Homo sapiens: one gene and its partner. The protein of the gene in region 1 interacts with the protein of each later gene in a pairwise test. Each region holds a gene or a part of one and is shown in the gene's direction. Other genes may lie near its edges. The genes, in order: TREM2 and TYROBP.

Evidence for each region.
Region 2: the proteins of TREM2 (region 1) and TYROBP interact in binary tests that used the Homo sapiens proteins (3 or more experiments, as listed by UniProt).

Annotation. Positions count from the first base shown.
Region 1 is NC_000006.12:41,160,300-41,164,653, reverse strand, and holds the start of TREM2 (triggering receptor expressed on myeloid cells 2 isoform 1 precursor), read left to right. Parts: upstream 1-1,537; 5' UTR 1,538-1,571; coding exon 1,572-1,611; intron 1,612-3,040; coding exon 3,041-3,391; intron 3,392-4,354.
Region 2 is NC_000019.10:35,905,338-35,909,600, reverse strand, and holds the start of TYROBP (TYRO protein tyrosine kinase-binding protein isoform 1 precursor), read left to right. Parts: upstream 1-1,305; 5' UTR 1,306-1,372; coding exon 1,373-1,433; intron 1,434-1,838; coding exon 1,839-1,871; intron 1,872-2,020; coding exon 2,021-2,155; intron 2,156-2,336; coding exon 2,337-2,383; intron 2,384-4,263. UniProt on the Homo sapiens protein: Adapter protein which non-covalently associates with activating receptors found on the surface of a variety of immune cells to mediate signaling and cell activation following ligand binding by the receptors.

The DNA of each region.
Region 1 (4,354 bases):
CAAAGGCTCTCGCTTAAGCTAAATGAAACTTTCTATATTATGGTATTGTGTTACACAGACATGGTGATTGTGGTGGTTGTTATAGAGATGCATGAGTTTGTCAACATTTACACAACTAGACATTTAAAAGGGGTAAATTTTTGTATATGTAAATTATGGGCCAATAAACCTGACTTCTAGAAAAAGACCCTAGAAGAGTACCTACAGAGTGATCTTCAGGCAGCCTCAGACTTCAGCCCCCAGGCCCTTGGGGCAAGGCCGGGCAGTTGGCCCTTTGAGTGGAGGCCTGTCTTCTCCTCACTATGAATTCCCCATCTCCAAGCACATTCCCTGTCCGTAAGTTAGATGCACAGTAAATATGAGTAAATAAATGAATAAAAGAACAAATAAGTGAGTGTTTGCAGGAAACTAAAGTAGACCCTGATAATCTACAGGCTCCTGCAGGCTTCTCCAGCCTCTTCTGCCACTCCCAGCACAACTCCATTTCCCACTCCTAGAATTGACTCAAGCCTCCTCCATCCAATCCCCGACTCACTGGGCCATTTCACACTTTTGTGCCTTTGCACACGTGGGTCCCTGTGCTTGGATCACCATGGGAACCTGTACGTGTAGAAAAACACACCCCTACCCCCAGAACTCTGAGAAATATCCTGTCCTGTCCTGTAGGATAGGATGATCAGGAGTTCAAGCATGTGTGTGCACAAAATAAACACCAGTGTGAGCATGTGTGCACAGGAGACACCCAACAGTTCCAAGAAGGCTAAACTTGGGCAGAAAATTCCAGGTGGGAGAGAAAATTTTCTGTCTTATGGACAGCCCATTTCCCTTTTCCCTTCTAACTAGGATAATGGTAATAGTTAGTATTTGTTGAATGCTGTGTGTCAGGCCCTACTGGAAAGCACTTTACCTGTAGGAACCCATATGGTGCTCCTGATAACCCTTTGCACTATCATTATTCCCACTGTATAGATCAGGGAACAGACACAGGTAGGTTTTGGATGTGTGGTTACACACCCAGAAAGTCAGGAAGTCTGGCTCCAGAGCTGTGTACTTAACTGCTGCCACACTACAGGAATGACAGCCCTGGGGGGATGAACTAAGAGGTGCTGGATGAGGGTCCTGGCCTCTAAAGGCACAGCTGTTCTCCAACTCTTGCAAGGCTGAAACCAGAAGATGGCGGGCATTGCAGCTGGTGGAGGGTCTGAATACAGCTGTGAGGATAGTGATCCCTGGGCTAGGCTCTGCAAGGAAACTGAGCAGTGCAGGGCCTTACCAGCCCCAACCATCTGGGGGCCACCCTGGCTGGCACCAGCAGGAGGGTGGGCTGGCTTCTCAGAGGTCTGGGAGACTCAGCCTCCTTCTGCCAGGGCTGCAGTGGCCGACTCCTCCTCCCCTCTGTCCCCACCCTGCACCGCCTCCAGACCCCAGTCCTGACTATTGCTTAATCCCCAGGAGCCCAGTTCCTGTGGGCAGCGCCTGACATGCCTGATCCTCTCTTTTCTGCAGTTCAAGGGAAAGACGAGATCTTGCACAAGGCACTCTGCTTCTGCCCTTGGCTGGGGAAGGGTGGCATGGAGCCTCTCCGGCTGCTCATCTTACTCTTTGTCACAGGTAGGATCCCCTCCGTGCCCTGTGATGCCTTCTCTCCCTCACTTTGAGCATGTGGTTGGGGCGCGGGTGGTGGGCCCTGGGGTGAATTATGAAGGCGGTGGCAGTCCTCGCATGCCTGAGTGCCCTGTTCTGCACTCCTCTCCTCCCCACCCTGCCCATATTCTTCACACCCTCCTTCCCTCCCCAGTATCAAAACCTACCCTCAGACTCTTTCTGCATGTGGACATGTAAGGGGCTGGTGGACTCTGGTTGCATTGGAAGGGAAGGAGTGCTAACAGTGGCATCCCAGGCACTAGCTGGCAGTTGGGGGAAGCTTTGGGGGGCACTGGCACTGGTAATAGCCTCTGAAATTATAAGCCACTAATTATGAGCCCCTACAGTTATAAAGGAGGAAAGAACCTGAGGATGTTCATCTGCATCTTTGGGGCACTCTCTCCCCTGCTCTGAAGGTCCCCTTGTCCTCAGCTCTTGATGGGAGGTGAGGAGCGTAGAGATTTCCGTTGCTGAGTTGAGGGGAATTGACACACCAAATTTTTGTACACAATTGCTTCTTCCCGCTGAGGAAAGCGCACCTTTTGCTCCCCCAGAGCACTGGACAAACCTGGGCAAGAGGAGAGACGGTGCCAAATGGAGTCTTGTTCCTGCAGCTTCTTAGATGGTGGTCAGGGGGAAGGCGGGGTTCTGAGGCATGGATGGGAGGTGGTCAGATGGGAGAGGGCCACGGCCCATCTGGTCTCTCTAGTTCCAAAAGGCAAGCCACCAACTTCCCAATCCTATCTTTCAAGCCTCTGTCACAGTAATGGTTGAAGATGGCAGGCAAGGGAGGACCAAGAGAGAAGTCAAAGCAGGGGGCTCTGGGGGCTGCCCCAGCAACAGGCTGGTGCTCTAAGCCCATCTCCCCCGCCCTAAGGAGGGTTCCCAAAATAGCAGCCTCATGTCTCCCCCAAAATATCTCCGAGACGGGTCCTTCCTGAAAGGGGAACAAAGCCACAGAAATAGGGAAGCTGGAAGTTAAAGGTCAGGAAAGTCGGTACCAATGTGGGCGGCTGCAGAGCAAGCAAGAGTGGCGGGGCAGGGAGAGCCAGCCCCAGGCCGAGAGGAGAGGTCCCAGTCCCAAATGATGGCAAAGAGATGTGCAGAACAGAACTGGAGGGGGTTTTAAGACCAAGTGCCTCCAGAATAGACCCAGAGAAGGTCAGTTACTTCTCCAAGGAGGCCCAGCAAGAGCAACAGTGAGAAAACCAAACCCAGGTCCCAGGTTTCCTGGTTCCCAATTTCCCACAAACACATGCTGTGCCATCCGCTCCCAACTTGTATAAGAACCTAAGCTCCTTCAGGGCAGGATTTTTGTCTGTTTAGGTCACTGCACAGAGCAAGTGTTCAAAGCGTATTTGGTAAACAAAGGAGTGAATGAATGTCTCCTCCCCAGAGCTGTCCGGAGCCCACAACACCACAGTGTTCCAGGGCGTGGCGGGCCAGTCCCTGCAGGTGTCTTGCCCCTATGACTCCATGAAGCACTGGGGGAGGCGCAAGGCCTGGTGCCGCCAGCTGGGAGAGAAGGGCCCATGCCAGCGTGTGGTCAGCACGCACAACTTGTGGCTGCTGTCCTTCCTGAGGAGGTGGAATGGGAGCACAGCCATCACAGACGATACCCTGGGTGGCACTCTCACCATTACGCTGCGGAATCTACAACCCCATGATGCGGGTCTCTACCAGTGCCAGAGCCTCCATGGCAGTGAGGCTGACACCCTCAGGAAGGTCCTGGTGGAGGTGCTGGCAGGTGAGTGGGCAGTGGCTGCCTCTCTGGCCTGCCCCTGTTCCAGGCCTCATGTTTTGGGCGTCTGTGTGCAGAACCACCCACTGGGCTCTCAGGGATCCTGGGAAAACCCATCGTATGGTCTCATCTCCCTACTCAGGGCTACCAAGGATAGTTGTGCAGGTTGCTCACTATACAAGGGGGCCAAAATCCAGCCCGGACTCCTTTTGCCAGACTGTGTTCCCTGGTGCAGAGCTGCATCACCTGCAAGAAGGGCACCTTTCTCTACTTTGCATTAAGGCACTCTGTGAACTAGCCTGGCCTTGGCCCTCCTTGCCCAAACAGCTTTATCCATCTCCATCCAGTTAGCATGTGAACATGATAGGAGGTCCTTAAGGAGGAGGAGATTAATTTATTCCCTCACCAACCAACCAATGGCCCTATCAACGTAAGTGAAGCACCAACCTGGTGCAGAAAATCACCCCTAGAAAGGAACACTGCTTGTGCTGGGCAATGTGCTTCACTTCTCTGGGCCTCCATTCTCTCATCTGTAAATGGAGAGGGTGGTGTCTGTCCTGCTGACCCCATAGGGTTCCTGTGAGTTTTTATTTGGCGGGGGGCGTTGGGGGCAGGGTGTGACATGTGCTCCAAGCCTCCTGCTACTGAACTGTCTTGGGATCGTCATTCCAGGTGTGAGTAGGTGGGCCAGGGTGTCTCCTTTCCACCCCCGAGCTCTGCGCAGGGACCACCCTCCAGGAAGGCCTTCTGCTTGAGTCTGCAGAACACAACTGTGTCCCCAAAGGAGAACAAATCTGGGGCTACAAAGGCCTTTTCTGACTCTCCTCCTTTCCAACCCCTTCTCCCAGTATGGCTCTTTACCATGGAAATGAGGTCAGGAGTAGTATTTGCCTGACTTGGGGAGGCCAGGGGAGACTGCCAGTCATAGACACAAACCCCACCTCCACCACTTTCCTAAGGATGGCCGGT
Region 2 (4,263 bases), on another chromosome or scaffold:
GGGCATCTGCCCTGTGACCAGAATCCAGTTTCCCCTTTTTTCTCCTAAGCCCAGGCCCAAGGAGCGGTGGGTGTGACGTGTGGATGGGGGAGGGGGGCTTCCTGCAGCTGTCTCATCCTCCAGCACCCTAACCTCAGGTTCCTCCTTCCCCAGCCCCAGGCTCCAGCTGGGGGCTAGAAGTCCCCGTCTCCTTGGGGTGGCCTCCCTTGGGCCTTGCTCCCAGCCACTTCCTCATTCAGCAGGAGAGCCAGCCACCTGCCTCTCCCCAAGCCGCCAGCCGTGCCTCTGTGTCTGTGCCACTGCCTTACTCTCACCTTTCTCAGCTTTGCCGCTGTTTTCTCCTTCCCCATCTTTCATCTTTGTTTTTCCCCCTGACTCTTCCCTAGTCAAAAACCTGATTTTGGGTCTTGGGTTCCATTTCCACCTTGATTTGCTGTGCAGCCTTAGGCAAGCGTCTCTACCTCTCTGAACAATGGGGATGATAAGAGCATGTGCCCTAGAAGGGCATTGCGGGGACTGAATGATTTAACGCTTGGGACAGAGTGCCTGCATGTCATTAGTGCCCACATGCTGCTGGCTCTTTTAATATCCTTTAAACAGCACAAGTTTCTGATGATTAAATAATCATCATCATAGCTGATGCTTTTAAAAAGCTGACAAGGGTCAGACCCTGGTCTAGGAACTTTAATTCATTTAATCCCCACAACTCTAAAAAGTAGGTCCCATTTTACTCCCAATTTTACAGATGAAGAAACTGAGGTTGGAGCTGGGTGCGGTGGCTCACACTTGCAATCCTAGCACTTCGGGAGGCCAAGGTGGGTGGATCACCTGAGGTCAGGAGTTTGAGACCAGCTGGCCAACATGGTGAAACCCTGTCTCTACTAAAAAAAAAAGAAAAAAAAATACAAAAAATTAGCCGGGCATGGTGGCAGGCGCCTATAATCCCAGCTACTTGGGAGGCTGAGGCAGGAGAATCACTTGAACCCGGGAGGCAGAGGTTGCAGTGAGCCGAGACCGTGCCATTGCACTCAAGGTTGACCAGCCAGGAAGAGGCAGAGCTGGTTTCAATCAGCCAGAGGAAGGTCATGACACTGACCCTCCTGTTAAAACGATGTCTGACCCCTGACTGGGGACGGAGGTGAAGTTTGTGCTTCACGTACCCTTTGCCCTTCACGTCTAGTTGCTGGGGGCCTGTGGCATGGCCCCTGGGTGTCTGGGCCTGATTCTTTCTTGGGTTTTGTTTCTGTCTCTCCTCCCCTGTCTCCTCCTCCCTTCTGCCACCACCCGCCTCAGACTTCCTCCTTCACTTGCCTGGACGCTGCGCCACATCCCACCGGCCCTTACACTGTGGTGTCCAGCAGCATCCGGCTTCATGGGGGGACTTGAACCCTGCAGCAGGCTCCTGCTCCTGCCTCTCCTGCTGGCTGTAAGTGGTGAGTTAGGGGCTTCCGTGGCTGCCTCCCGGGTCCCTGGGCTCAGCTTGGGGCAGGGCAGGGAGTGGGGTGGAACGAGAGAACCAAAAGTGGGTGTTGGGATGGGAGCAGGTCCCCAACCTCCCAAAGCCTGTGGGTTTCTCCCAGAGCCCAAGCCCCCAAGTTTTGTCGTCCGCTACAAGCAGGGGAGAAGAGACATCTAAGTGTGTTGCCACAGGACAAGTTGTGCAGAAGTAACGCACATAGTCCGGTGGCCCAGACGCCAGCCCCCTGAGTCCCGCCAGACACGCTCTCCCCCTTGCTAACCTCTTGGCTGTCAGGATCCACCTTCCCTGGCTTCTAAACTTGCCTCCCCCACCCCCGTCATAACTCTGTGCCTCAGTTTACCTTCTTTTTCCTCCTCAGGTCTCCGTCCTGTCCAGGCCCAGGCCCAGAGCGGTAGGCCTAGACCCAGCAGTCCCTCTCTCTACCTCCCAGAGACCTCCCTGTCTCCGTCTCTCCCACACCCTTTCCAAACCTCCCTGCCGCTGACCCCCCTCCCCACAGTTCCCAGCACACACTGACCTCCCCTGACCCCTGTGCTGCAGATTGCAGTTGCTCTACGGTGAGCCCGGGCGTGCTGGCAGGGATCGTGATGGGAGACCTGGTGCTGACAGTGCTCATTGCCCTGGCCGTGTACTTCCTGGGCCGGCTGGTCCCTCGGGGGCGAGGGGCTGCGGAGGGTGAGTGGGGCTAGCAGGGGACATCCTGAGGACTTGCCTAGATGGGGGTGGGGGGCTGGGTAAACTCCCAGATCTCAAACATCCAAAGGGATGGTAATGGAGGTGCTGATTTGGAATGACAAAACACCCTCAACTCACCACTCTGCCTGTCTCTGCACCCCACAACACCCCTCACCTCCAGCAGCGACCCGGAAACAGCGTATCACTGAGACCGAGTCGCCTTATCAGGTGAGAAAACCAGACTGTCCTCCTCACATTTCACTCCTGCCAGGGATATCTGCCCCAGATACTCCTTCATGCCATCAGAGGGACCTCAAAGCCACTCTGCCTAAAGCACCCCCAAACCTTGAAGGCACATGGGACATCTGTCCAAAACTGGGCCGAATGATCAACCACAAGCTTATGGTCAGCTTAAAATGTGTGAAGAGGGGCTGGGCACGGTGACTCAAACCTGTAATCCCAGCACTTTGGGAGACAGAGGCGGGTGGATCACTTGAGGTCAGGAGTTCGAGACCAACATGGTGAAACCCTGTCTCTACTAAAAATACAAAATTAGCTGGGCGTGGTAACGCATGCCTGTAATCCCAGCTACTTGGGAGGCTGAGGCAGGAGAATCCTTTGACCCAGGAGGCGGAGGTTGCAGTGAGCCAAGATCACGCAATTGCACTCCAGCCTGGGCAACAAGAGGAAAACTCTGTCAAAAAAAAAAAAGCGTGAAGAGTTAAAAAGAAAAAAAAAAGGGTGGCTTTGCCTTTGTAAGTGTAAACACAGGCCTTGCCAGAAGTCAGGCCAGGAATTTTCTGGAAGAAACCCAGCCCTAGGACGACTGATTTCTGGGAGACGCTCTCAGTAGGGCAGAGAATGTCATTCAGCCCTACCTTGGTAACTCTAAAGAGAGGAGTCCTAGAATCTCTTTTTTGGGTTTGAGGACCCTTCATCCCTTTGAGAAACTAAGAAAATCTAGACTCCCAGAAAAATCTACACAAAAAATACAAAATTGTGCATATAATCTGAGAGCAGTGTAAATGTTCTTTATAATTAAAAAAAATTTTTTTTTGGCCAGGCATGGTGGCACACACCTGTAATCCCAGCACTTTGGGAGGCCAAGGTGGGTGGATCACGAGGTCAGGAGTTCAAGACCAGCCAGGCCAGGATGGTGAAACCCCATCTCTACTAAAAATACAAAAATTAGCTGGGCATGGTGTCATGCGCCTGTAATTCCAGCTTCTCAGGAGGCTGAGGCAAGAGAATCGCTTGAACCCAGGGGGCGGAGGTTGCAGTGAGCCTGGGCGACAGAGTGAGACTCCATCTCAAAAAAAAAAAAAAGACAGGGGTCTCACTATGTTGCCCCAGCTGGTCTCAAACTCCCAGTCTCAAGTGATCCTCCCGCCTCAGCCTCCGAAAATCTTGGGATTACAGGCTCAAGCAACCATGCTGGTTGAGTATTCTTGAAGCTCTTTTTTCTTTCTCTACTTTAATTTTTTTTTTTTTTTGAGATGGAGTCTCATTCTGTCACCCAGGCTGGAGTGCAATGGTGTGGTCTCAGCTCACTGCAACCTCCACCTCCCAGGTTCAAGCGATTCTCTTGCCTGAGCCTCCCGAGTAGCTGGAACTACAGGTGCATGCCACCACACCCGGCTAATTTTTGTATTTTTAGTAGAGATGGGGTTTCACTATGTTGGCCAGGCTGGTCTCAATCTCCTGACCTCGTGATCCGCCCACCTTTCCCTCCCAAAGTGCTGGGATTAGAGGTGTGAGCCACCGCGCCCGGCCTTAATTTTTTTTTTTTTTTTAAAGTAGAGATAGGTTCTCACTATGTTGCCCAGGCTGGTCTCAAACTCCTGGGCTCAAGAGATCCTGTTACCTCGGTCTCCCAAAGTGCTGGGATTATAGGCATGAGTCACCATGCCTGGCTGAAGCTCTTTTTAAAAACTATAGAGTATACAAGAGAATCTAGTCATCTATCCCCCTCTCTGTCAATGTTCCTTTTTAACCCTTTAGGGGGTCATGAGATTCTCTAAGACCTCTCCCCTGAAGAATGCACGCCCAGACTAGTCATCATATATGATTTTAGGGTTTCTGTCTGAGGCCTGCCCCTGGGGGCCACA